Linked DNA regions of Homo sapiens: all the other regions are reported to be linked to region 1. The links are microRNA targets in miRTarBase. Many come from high-throughput screens and were not tested one by one. Region 1 holds a microRNA gene; each other region holds the end of a gene's coding sequence.
The links. The annotated mature microRNA hsa-miR-885-5p reads UCCAUUACACUACCCUGCCUCU and lies in region 1 at 2,901-2,922, shown strand. An mRNA with a match to its seed (bases 2 to 7 or 8) in the 3' UTR can be bound and repressed. Matches are read on the target gene's strand: a 7mer-m8 pairs with bases 2 to 8, a 7mer-A1 pairs with bases 2 to 7 and ends in A, and an 8mer does both.

Region 2: miRTarBase lists STAMBPL1 as a target of hsa-miR-885-5p. The part of its 3' UTR that is shown has no 7-base or 8-base seed match.
Region 3: miRTarBase lists TENT2 as a target of hsa-miR-885-5p. Seed matches in the 3' UTR shown: 7mer-m8 at 1,406-1,412.

The regions. Positions count from the first base shown.
Region 1 is chr3:10,393,209-10,397,452 of GRCh38, reverse strand. It overlaps MIR885 (microRNA 885), which reads left to right and starts at 2,891; the gene lies at 2,891-2,964. The region is part of intron 5 of ATP2B2 (ATPase plasma membrane Ca2+ transporting 2); the gene reads left to right. RefSeq lists an enhancer at 1,760-2,356.
Region 2 is chr10:88,922,790-88,927,033 of GRCh38, forward strand. It overlaps STAMBPL1 (STAM binding protein like 1), which reads left to right. Exons shown (of 11, transcript NM_020799.4): 11 at 379-698. The coding sequence ends at 435. Among named protein-coding and RNA genes, the nearest start is that of ACTA2-AS1, 7.8 kb to the right of the region's middle.
Region 3 is chr5:79,684,537-79,688,780 of GRCh38, forward strand. TENT2 (terminal nucleotidyltransferase 2) reads left to right here. Exons shown (of 15, transcript NM_001114394.3): 15 at 663-3,710. The coding sequence ends at 737. Among named protein-coding and RNA genes, the nearest start is that of CMYA5, 3.2 kb to the right of the region's middle.

The DNA of each region.
Region 1 (4,244 bases):
AGCCTCGTCATGGTGTTTGAGTTTTGCACTGCACAAACCATCTCAAATAAAATGAAGAACAAAATTTGTCGACCATCCCACCACCCAACCGGATCTCACTGGTCTCACTTTTATAGGCCCTGCTGTCCTTGGCCACATGCAGATAGACGACACTACTATGTAGTGTCATTTCTGCAACAATCCTCTTGCCCACGCAGGTCTGAGCAGCCGGGAGCTCTGAACTGGAAGCTCTCAGGAGGTTGTGCCCAGCTCACCCCTGGGCCCTGCAGACCTTAGGCTCTGTCCTCCAGAGGCAGTGGGGAGAAGCTGAGCAGAGTGTCAGGCTGAGCTGAACAGGACCTGAGCTCTCAAGCGAACTTGCTGTGTGGCCTCAGGCACATGGCTTCACTTCTCTGAGCCCATTTCCCTGGGAGGACAATAGGAGTGTCATTCATGATATGATGTAAGTGGATCCCCTAGCACAGTGCTGCACAGGGAGGCTCAACATAAGTTGGTTCCCTTCCCCATTCCTTGGGTGAGGCCTGGACTTGGGGGTGAAACAGACTGGGTTCCAATCCCAACTCTACTCCTTAGCCAGGGACCCCCAACAAGCTTCCCCCCCTTTCTGATTATAGCCCCAGCTCATGAGGTTGTGTTGAAATCTGGAACCTCCAGAAATGTCCATTTCGCCCTCTCATCCTTCATCTCAAATGTCTCCCCTTTCCCACCTCTCTGGGCTACCCCCTTCCTCTTCATCATCCAACTCCTCCCTACCTTCAGCCTGCAGCAGCCTGCCTCCCCCAGGGGGTGTTCCTTGATTAGTTTCTTCCCCAGTGTTCTGAACTCCCTGCATAACAGCCATTTGGATGCTCATTTTTATGCACAACCAGACACCATGGGCCCTTTACATCAGCGGGGAGGCCTTGCTGGGCCTTCCAGTCTGATGATCCTTGAGGAACAACACAGAGAGACCAGGCTGGGGGCATTTGTGGTGTCGTTATGGTGGTTGAGAAAGCCCTAGTGTCATCTCATGCACTGTTTCAGCTTAGAAGAGGGCAGGAAACACTCCGCTCTGGTCAGTTGGTCCAACCATGCTTGGCCTGTGACCCTGGACAGGTCCCTTCACCTCTCTGAGCCTCTGTGTCTGTGTCAGTGCAATGGGGAAGCTGGTGAGGCCTCCACTGCCTGCCCCACAGGGCTGTTGTGGGGACCACAGGCATGCACACGTGTGACTGTCCTTTGCAAACAAACCCTGCGGTTGTGAGGTGCTGTATGGTGTGGAAGGAATGTGGCATCTGGAGGCAGAATGCCCAGGTTCCAGCCCTCCAACAGCTCCCACTGTGGCCTCTGCCCCTCAGAACCTCAGTTTCCCCATCTGACAAGTGAGGGCAGACCAGCCTTCAGAAAGACTCAAATGACCTCAACACTCAGGGCACCAAGGAAATCATCAAAACCAGGCAGGTTTCCCCTACCTTCCTACCCTCCAGGGACGGACAGGCAGACACGAGCCCATGTCTGGTGTATCTTCAAACGGGACAGAGTAAAAATATTCAGAAATTGCAAACTCATATGTCTGCAGGGCCAGGTAGGGAGAGCACAGGTGCCAAACCCAAACCACAGCTGCTTCCTGTTGCTGCCTGCAGAAGCGCCAGCCCAATCTGACCTCAGTGCTCACTTTGCAAGAGGAGCCAGAAATCCAGATTTCCCTGTACCAGCTCTCAATGTTTAAGTATTGGCAAGAAATTCCCACATTTTAAGGTCCCTATGGGTCAAGCCACATATGGGTGGGACCTAGAGTGCAAACTCTGACCTAGGCCTATTTTTTAGCTTTGTATTTTAAGATAATTTCAAACTTTCAGAAAAGTTGCAAGGATGGCACAAAGAATACGGGCATGCCCTTCACTCTGATTCGGCTGTTGCTAACCTTTTGCCGTCTTTGCTCTCTGACAAATCTCACTCTCCTCCTCATCATGCAGATGTGATGGCCTTCTCCCGCTAGACACTGCAGGTGTGTCTCCCAAGAGCAAGGGTATTCTCATGCATAACCACAACACAGCCATCAATTCAGGAAACTTGACATTGATTCGGTACTGTTACCTGCTGTGCCATCCATATTCACATTCTGCCAATTGTGCCTGCAGCGTTCTCCAGGCCAGGATCCATGTGGGGTCCTGCATGCCACTTGGATGTCCTGCCTCTTTGGTCTCCTGCATGGAGCAGCGCCTCATCTTTTCATTGTCTTCATGGAAAGCCAGTGTTTTTTAAACCCTCCTAGGTCATGAACTTCCGTGAGAGTTCCACTAAAGCAGTGACCCCTCTTATAAGGAACAGATGCCCAGACTCCTCATCTTGCAACATTTCAGGGGATTCAATGATCCCTAGAGGACCCTGGTCCTATCCCAATTTGCAGCTGGGGAAACTGAGACCCAGAGCAGAAGTGTAAGGCCCCACAGAGGGCAGGGGCAGGGCGGAAGCCAGACCCCAGCTCTGGGCTCTTCCTGTAGCCCCCATGCAGGAGCCTGCCTCCTTGTAGTAACTTCCACTGGGAAATGCAGGACTAGACTAGATGCCATCAATGTGGCAGTGGAAGGGGCTGGAGCCAGGGGGCCAGGATGGCGGGGCTGTCTTCAAAAAACAGCAAGGCCTGGCTCCAGCAGGCCCGATGGCTCAACCCCCGCGAGACCCCGACACACCCTCCTCCCTTCCCCCTGCCAGCCAGAGCACTAACAGCATGAGGTCATGCAGGACATCGGTAAACCCTCTTGGGACTCTGCCCACATCCCAGGACCTGCTGCCCACCCCACCAAGCAGAAGGCCAGGCATGGGAGAGCCGGACCTGCCACCACTGCCACCGTCTCCAGGGAGCCTAGGACGACACCGTGACTGCAGAAGGCCCAGTCTGCTACTCGGCCCGCACTCTCTCCATTACACTACCCTGCCTCTTCTCCATGAGAGGCAGCGGGGTGTAGTGGATAGAGCACGGGTTCAAGTCCCGGCTCCACCACTCACAGCTGTGTGACCCTGGGCCATCACTCAAGCTCTCTGAGCCAGAAAGTGGTGGGTGGAGGGGCTGGGGATTGAACTTGCGCCAAAACCTACCTCAGGGGGCTGTTGTGAGGGGGACACTTTGCCTACTGCCTCGTGCTCTGTGAGCGTGTGTTATTAACTGCATTAATAACAATAATAATGGAAGGACTGTGTCTGGGCTGGGAATCGTTTTGGCTTTGTTTAGTGCTTGTGCCTGGAGGCAGATAATAGCCCCCAGAAATAGCCTCCATCCCTTCTTCACAGCCTCTCCCCACTGAAGGAACCCTTTTAGAAGAGATGAACTCTCCCCTCTCCCTATCCAGGGAGAGGCCTAAAAGGTCACACGCAAGAGATCAAGGAACCCTAGGTCCAGCCCCTACTGTCCTACACCCTCTGCAACTTCAGTCATTCGCCTTATCTGGGCTCAGAAACCCCATTTTGTAAAAGGAGGCTTCCCAGTTCTGCTACCTATGGCTCAGCATACCCCACAAGCCACAGCAGAAGGCTTTGACTCCGAGACTGCCACCATCTAGACCAGCTCAGGGCAAGGGAAAGCCACCTCCTGCTGTTCAGGACAGGCCCAAGGCCAGGATGGGCTTTGAGCCTGCAGCTGGGAAGGTCCTGGCCACTCTCTGCTGCCAGGTCAGAGACCAAGGAACATCCCCTCCACAGGACCAGGACAGGACAGAAGCTTGGGCAGGACAGGACAGACAGTACCATCCACGGAAACCACAGTGTTCCCTGAGCCTGGGCTCCCATTTCCTCCCACTCATGGGATAGCTGGCAGCTCCCCACCACGCTCTGGCCCCCCTTTCTCTCCTTGGGGCTGCCCCAGACAGCTCTCCCACCAACTTTGTCCACAAGGTGGAAAAAGCACAAGATTGGAGCCACAGACCAGCTCCCATCCCAGCTCTGCCTTCCTGGGCTGAATGCAGAGGTGACCCCCTGAGCTGATGCCCTATCTGTGAAATGGGGTGAGGCTGACCACCTCACAGACTGTGACAGCTGAGCGAAAAGTGGCTCAGATGGAACTTGGCACATCATGAATGCTCAAAAGATATTCTCTTCCTTCCTCCCCCTCCACCCAAAAATACTCTCAGCGGCTTCCTATTGAACACCAAGCAAAGACTCCACTCTGTCACCCTCCACTCAGGCACCTTCTCCCTTCGTGGGCGCTGAGCTTTGGCCCGGCCCGCCCGCTACCATCACACTGGACCACCTCCCACCTTTGCCTGGCT
Region 2 (4,244 bases), not on the chromosome of region 1:
TGGCCAAATTAGTTTTTTCATAGCAATTGATGGAAACTATGATCATACTTCTTGATTACCTTTGCATAGTCCAAAAGAAACATTTGACTACGCCTTTTTTTTTCCTAATTTTCTTGGAGGTTCTGTGGCTATAACATCAGAGAACATTATATTGACGTTAGAATTTACTTAAAATGAAAATTATTTGGCAACCCCTGTAAATATTTTTGTTGTTGTTGAAAATGAATAAATGTGATTGTATTTGTTCTGATTGGAAATATTTTAAAAATCAGGAACAAATTAAAATTAGGAAATCTATACTTCCTCCCTAAAGAAAATCATATGGTAAACATTATGGTGAAATCAAACATATGGTAAAACCAATTTTTTCTTTCCTAGATATGCAAACATGTGTTGGTAAAAGACATAAAAATAATTGTGTTGGATCTGAGGTGATATGTTCTGAATGTAAGCACCGTCAACATCAGACACCTACTCATGGACATGTGGTTGCCGGATTTTCTTAAGATGTTTCCAGAAATGACTGATATTTTATATTTATACATTTTAGATGACAAAGCTTGATATTTATTGCTGTTGCACATTTTAAAGTTTTCTTTTTGGGTTGCTCTGTGTCAAGAGAGGTTACATGGTGTTAAATCGGTACCTGATAATGTACCCAAATACTATGGCCAGATAATAAATTGTGCTGCAAACAACATGTCTTGTATTTATAGAGGTCTCTGCATACATTTTTAGAGCTTTAGATGATTTGCTATATTTTTTATTCATGTAAAATGTAATTCCAAATAAGAAATTCTGAGTGTATATAGTCTCCAAAGCAGACCATCTGTTTCTGAAACCTTCCCCTGAGGTAGGTGAACAGCTTCCATGTGTAGATGAAATATGGCTGCCATTGATAAAGCTTGTTCTGTGTTTTCAGTGTCATGAAATCCCAGGCTCAGAGAGATATCTCTGCAGTGAATCATTGTGTAAGATACAAGAACAACACTTCTATTCAGGGATCAGGTGTCAGAGGGCCTGGGATAGCAGACAATTCATTAATTTGATTTAGAAGACTAAAAGTAGAGAAGCTTGAGAGAGGATTTTTTTTTTAAAAAAAGACTCAGATAAAAGTACAAAACCTGTTACTGTGAAAATGAACAGGGGTGATAGGAAGAAGAAATGAGACATAAGAAATAACTGATAATTCTTAGTCAACTTGCTAACTCTGTTAGCAAGTTGAATTGGTAGGAAAAACCTGAGGATGGAAACAGTGTGGAGAAATCTTAGCTGCAGATACACAGAGGGCAGAATGGAAGTGATATTGTTGAGTTATTTGAGAATAGGTCCTTTGGGACACTGAAGACTAGTTCTGCAGGTGAAATCTTTATCTTGGAAGACATTGCTCCCAGGCACATTGGGAAATCCTGGGCTGACAGCCCTTTCCTTGATCGAGAAACTTGTGATCACTTCTTAGTCTCCCTTTTCATCCTTTAGGGCCTTACATTACTCTAGTCTAGCTTTCTTCTTTTTTCTTTTCAACGTTTAAGTTTCCTTCTCCAGCCATCTCTCCCTGGATCTCCACAACTTTTCAACAGGGCCAAACTAATCCTATGAAACCTTCTGTCTTCCCAATGTCTTCTGTGCCAGCCACAGCTCTCCCTGCCTTTGCTTTCCTCATGACATTGTATCTGAGTTGCCTAAACAACTCATGTTTCCATGTACTAGCTTCCACTGCTTAGTTCAATGATTTCCATATTCCAGAGTGGTATTTCCTGTACTCTGTGCTTGGATGGGTTAACATCTGATATGGTTTGGCTGTGTCCCCACCCAAATCTCATCTTAAATCATAGTAGGAGGGACCTGGTGGGAGGTAATTGAATCATTGGGGTGGTTACCTCCATGCTGTTCTCATGATAGTGAGTGAGTTCTCAGGATATCTGATGGTTTCATAGGGGGCTTTTTCCCTTTTGCTCAGCACTTCTTCCTGCCATTATGTGAAGAAGGACGTGTTTTGCTTCCCTTTCCGCAATGATTTTAAGTTTCTTGAGGCCTCCCCAGCAATGCAGAACTGTGAGTCAATTAAACCTCTTTCCTTTAGAAATTGCTCAGCCTTGGTCAGTTCTTTATAGTAGCATGAGAATGGACTAATGCATCAACCCTCCCTGCTTGTCTAGTTCTCAATTCTGGTATCATGTCACCTGAATTCTGTTCCTGTTCTCATTTATACAGAACCACCTACTATGGGCAAGTCAGTGGCTTGTTTCTGTTTCATGGAATCTTCTAGCTATGGAGAGCTCAGGTATCAGACTTCAGAAGTAGAGCTTGGCTTGCCTTGTGCATGGAGACTTTAGTCTATGGCCACCACTAGTTAAGAGCAGATTAACTCTGCAAGGCTGGCTCCATAGACACCTCACTTTTTCCTGAGTGGTGCTGTCCTCAGTGTCTTAACACTTAAACACACCATGATATTCTGATATGCTTGATCAAAGGAAAATGTTATATTCTTTATTCAAGTAAAAATAATTGTTGGGACAATGGATAGTTGAGAAATGAGTGAGATCCTTTGTATAGAATTAAAAATTATAGTAATACACTAAGAGGATGTAAAATGAGAGTTGTCCGATGAAAAAGCTATGGACATTGAATGGTGCCTAAAGATAGAAAGGACTCAGTTGAGGGCCAAGAACATTTAGCATCTTAGATTTCCAGAAAGACTAGAAAGAGAAGCTATGAGTATGCAAAACCATTATGTCCCTTCTGAATAGCAAACTAGAAGAGAACTCATTTTCACTAAGAAAGTATATTGTATTTCCTAAATAAAGGAGACATTCTTGGCACTTTTTTGTAGGTTTTTTTTTTTTTTTTTTTTTTTTTTTTTTTGCCAAGTACAAACCAAATTAACCAGGATCTCACAGAGTGGGACTGTTGGAGGCGGCAAACCAGAGCCTGACTTTGGCTGGCAGAATGAGGCCCTGGGGCTGTGTCTGAAAGAACCAACAGAAATGTGACCACATCACTAAGTAATGGACTGGTCGTGAGGCAGAGACCCTGTTAACCAACCTGGAGACGCCACTACACACACATGTGCATGAGCACCAGTGTTCATTGGATAAACTATCTATGGAAGGTCTCTTTCACAACAGGCAGACAGCACCTTCTCTTTTTTTGAGACAAGGTCTCACACTGTTGCCCAGGCTGGAGTGTAATGGCATAATCATGGGTCACCGCAGCCTTGATCTCGTAGGCTCAAGCGATCCTCCCATCTCAGCCTCCCGAGTAGCTGGGACTACAGGCACTCACCACCACACCTGGCTATTTTTTTTCTATTTTGTAGAAATGAGGTCTTGCTGTGTTGCTAGGGCAGGAGATCCTTCTTTTGAATATGAATCAGTTCCAAAGCTCCATTTGCCACATCCTAAGGCAAAGATGGTTCTTCATTTCTTTTCAGATTTGTGTTTCTGTAGAAAAAAAAGAAACAATTAAGAACTTCCTTTGATTTTCAGTGCTAGTCAGTTTGCACACAGTGCCTGACACCTCATGTGTATTTGTTATAGGCTGAATTGTGTCCCCCAAATTCATGTGTTGAGGTCCTTAACCCCCCAATACCTCAGAATATGACTGAGTTTGGAGATAGGGCCTTTACACAAATAATTAAGTTAAAATGAGGCTAGTAGAGTGGGCACTAATCCAGTATGAGTTGTGTCCTTATAATTAGAGATTAGGACAGACATACACAGAAGGAAGACCATGGGAAAACAGAAAGAAGACTGCCATCTGCAAGCCAAAGAGAGAGAGATCTCAGAAGAAACCATCCCTGCCAAAACCTAGATCTCAGACTTCCAGCCTCCGGAACTGTGAGAAAATAATTTTCTGTTGTTTAAGCCATCTGGTCTGTGGTATTCTGTTTGGCAGCCCTCACAAACTAATGTAGTATCCGGTAAATATTTGCTGAAGTTGTTTGTTTCCTTTTCTCTTACAGACTGAATTGGAAATGGCTTTCTTTGTTGTCATGCAGGGCAGAAATCATTCTTTCCATAGGCCTTGTCAGTTGTAGAAGAGCAAAGCAGAATGTTTGTGGATTATTCTCAGCTACTCAAATTGTTCCTAGTTTCTTTTTAGTAGGATTTTGCTTGTGGAAATTTGACATTTTATTTGGCGCCACACTGGTTCACTTCTGTTTTCTCCCAATTCATTTCACATTGCAACCACATCAACTGTGTTGGAGACTGTGTTATTACAATGATTTGACCTTAGGTTGA
Region 3 (4,244 bases), not on the chromosome of region 1:
TGAGACACTATACCCAGTCTCATAATTATTGTTTTTAATGCAAAAAGCTAGTAAAGATGTAAGACAGTCAATCAAATAATTGAAATAATCCTCTCTTCTCAAATCCAAAGGTTTTGTCTTAATTACCTTGCTACTTTTAGATTGAATTAATCCGTGAATAAATATTAATATTGTCAGTTGTATCTTTCAGTACCACCTATGTGCCCATTTCTTTATTAATGAATTGGAACCATAAAAATATGGAGTTTTTAAATAACATTTTCTTTTCTGATGACAGAAACAATACTTACACTGTGTTAAAAACTTGGAAAATAAAAACTTAGCCAGCCTGGGCAATACAATGAGACCTTGTCTCTACAAAAAAATTTAAAAATAGCTGAGCGTGATGGCATACGCCTGTAGTCCCAGCTACTCAGGAGGCAGAGGTGGGAGGATCTCTTGAGCCTGGAAAGCGGAGGTTGTAGTGAGCCGAGATTGCACCACTGCACTCCAGCTTGGGTGGCAGAGTGAGACCTTATCTCAAAAAAAGAAAAAATTTGAAGGAAAAAATTATTCAAAATTTATCACCTAGAGAGAACCAACTATTAACATTCTTTTAAACTCTCAGTCTTTTGTTCTGCATAAATTTTAGGTTTTAAGAATGATTTTTCTTTCTCTCCCAGTCATGGCACAGATTGAAAAACAAGAGAGATTTGAACAGTATACTACCTGTAAGAGCTGCTGTCCTGAAAAGATAACTGGCCTCTATTTCTTAATAAATTCTTCCAAGAAATAAAGAACAATAGTTTCATCATAATACATTATGTTTACCTCCATCATAGTTGCTTTTTTCATAGTTCTTGTTTTCATGTTTTATTTTTAAAAAGACATATAAAGATTGCATATTTTATTATGACATTTCCTAATAAACCCCTTTGATTTAAAAATGTATTTTTAAAAATGTTTACATTGATGATGAGTAATATTGCATGTGTTTTCAGGTGATCAGATAAAATATATTTTGGGAAATTAACTGAACAAATAAAAAGTTTTTGATATAACTTCAATTAATTGTACCACATGCTAATCCTGAAGAGATGTGTAGAATTTTGGAAAGGGTCTAATTCATACATGCTTAAAGTATAACCTACGTTAGATAGTTTGTTGTCAAAGTCTGTTCTAGTAAAGTGAAGATTCAAGTCAGTTGTTCAGTTACTTGAAGCAAAACGAAATCTTTCATTTCAGTCAAATCACTGCAGTCATGAAATACTGAACAATTGCCTTAAGTCTTTGCTTGACTCACTGGGATAGACTGAGGCTTTGGGTGTGTCTGTATTAGCATTTCATTAGTACTTCACATGCTTTTGATGTACTCTTGAGATTGCTTTAAATTTTGTATTGAAACAACAATACATTTTGCACTGTAGTAATGGGAGCACTAACTCTTACAACAGTTAGTGAATCGTTTTAAAGAATCAGTTCAGTGTAGACATTTTGAAAAGATTGTTTCCTGTGCTTTACGATAGCTTAGTGCAATGTGCACTTCTGTTTTACTTGCCATTTTCCTGCTCTGTTTTCTCTGTGACATGAAGCAACAGAAACTGAGATCAAAGTTAAGATTATATCCTGTTTGTAGTATCAGATATTTTTCTGTGTACAATTATAGGATTGTAATCTAAACTGGAATTTTTAGGCAGTAAGTCACCACAAAATGTTTTAGATAAGACACAATAAAATTATTATAAATAAAAGCTTAATGTTTGTAAAAAATCTCTTTTTTAGTATTTCTTTTTTCACATGAAAGAAGTGGTGGCTGCTAAAAAAAAAGCTACAGTGTTTATTAAGGGTCTTTTTGATTTATGTAAATATTTGTAAATTGGTCAGTGCCTGTAAATTTAAATATAAAAAGTAACCTTGAAAACAGTTTTAACTTTTTCAAAAGAACTATGTCCAACATTTTTTAGACCTGCTGTAGTACAGTTTTGTACCTCTAACGTATTTTTTTTTTGCAGACCAAATGCTAAAACTTTTGCTTTTCTTTGACTTGTAAAAGGTGCACATTTTCATTTTCTTCCTTAAGTTCAAATTTTTGTATGATGTCAAATGCAATAAAATTTATATATGGACATTGTTGAGGTGCCTTTTTTTTCTGTGAAAATCTTTGCTTTGAGATGAGACCGAGGCTGTAGTTATCATCTAGAACTGAACTAAATCTACTTATTAGCCAGCTAACGACATCAATATCTTATGTCTCTGGCATTATGAGGAATGAAAGTTTACACATAGTGAATTTTTTAGATTCCTGATGTGTAACACTTTTTATGCATTTGAGCTTTTCATATTTTGGGGGGGAATTTTTCCTAAAATTTACACTGTGCATCTCTTAATCAGAATGTACTGAGTAGAGTTAATATTCTAGTGATGACTGGGTAATCATTATAAGCATTAGTCATAGTACTATTCAGTAATACTGTGCAACTTTCAGGGATGGGTAAGTATGTACCCTCTGCCTCTACAGTATTATGACATTTCCTAATAAAACCCCAGAATTTACCATGGTGTGGGTTCCTTCACTGTCACTGTTTTCTCAGTTTTCAGTGGCCCCACACTTACTACTGCTTTTCTTTGTTTTACCACGAAAAACAGATCAAGAAGTCACTAAACTTAGACCCAATTCTATATCAGTAGACTGAGGCCTGAAATTATGCACACATAACTGGCCAAATATCAGATAAGTGAACTGTTAATATATGAGAGAATTTTCTGGACTTTTAAGTTATTAATCTCAATTATTTGTGTGGTGAGTACTAAATTATTTTCTGTTTGTGTTGATCTGTCCATTTCTGTATATAGTTGTCCCTCAGTATATTGAGGGATTGATTCCAGGTCAACCCCGTCCTCTTCAGATACCAAAATCCACAGATACTCAAGTCCCTTATATAAAATGGTGTAGTGTTTGCATATATCCTACACACATTCTCTTGATACTTTAAATCATCTCTAAATTACCTGATACGTAATACAATGTAAATGCTATGTAAATAGTTGTTATACTGTATTGTTTAGGGAATAATAATGACAAGACAAAAAGTCTATACCTGTTCGGTACAGATGCAACCATTCTGCCTCCTCCCTACCCCCTCCCAAATATTTTTCATCCTGGTTGAATTCACAAATCCTACATGGTTACGGAGGGTTGACTGTATTTGCATATGTTGTTAAAGTGGTGTTTAAAATGTGCAATCTGTACTACAATTCTAAATTTTGGATTGATTTGAACTAGGATCTTTGCAAATAAATCTCATAGACATTAATGTTTGTAAGAAATTTTTAATTAAATGATGGAAGGAACATAGAATGGCTACCTGTGATTTTGATTAGTGTTTAACAGATTGCCACAGCTGTGATTGAATTCCTTTTGTACTGGATGAGCATGGTCATTTGGGATTACTGATGGTGAAGTCTAGCTGGTGTTAAGAGAATAAATATTGCTGATGCTAAACCTGGTTTAGTGAGCTGTGGAAGCCTTGACTCTGCTGTTTTCCCTCCTTATGCCCCACTAGCTGATGTATCTGTACTGTAATTCAATGATTTACAGTTCATTACCTCCAGACATAATGCATGCATACCAGCTCGTGTAACTGGTGAATAATCCCCAGCTTACAGTCATATTTAACAACTCTGTGACTTGCTATAATTAAAAATAAATGTTAACTCTTCTAGCCATCAAATCATTCTCATGAAATGAATATCTTTATTGTAAAGTTACCTCCATTTGTACATAGCAGTTCTGGTTCTGTTCTCTTCAGGGAGCATCCATTATATGTACCTGCTATGTGCTAGCTACTTTGCTAGTGTGTAGGCTTGTAAGAGATGGGGATGATGGGACAAAGAAGAGTAGTAAACTTACGAAGTCTGCTGGGGAAGGAGATACAAACATAATTTGAATATAGGATTATGTGGGAACCTGGAAGAGAGGTACTGAGTTTAACTTTGGGATTTCAGTGAAAGGTGGTGATCTTGAATGATGGGTATCCTGGTAAAAATGGGACCAACCTTTGAGGCAGAAGGAATTGTGTTAATAAAGACACAGTGGAGTGACTTGACAATGTTGGGAACTCCTGACTTCTAAAGACACCTGACCAGCTGGGCGTGGGGGCTCACACCTGTAATTCCAGAACTTTGGGAGGCTGAGGTGGGCAGATCACCTGAGGTCAGGAGTTCGAGACTAGGCTAGCCAATATGGTGAAACCCCGTCTCTACTA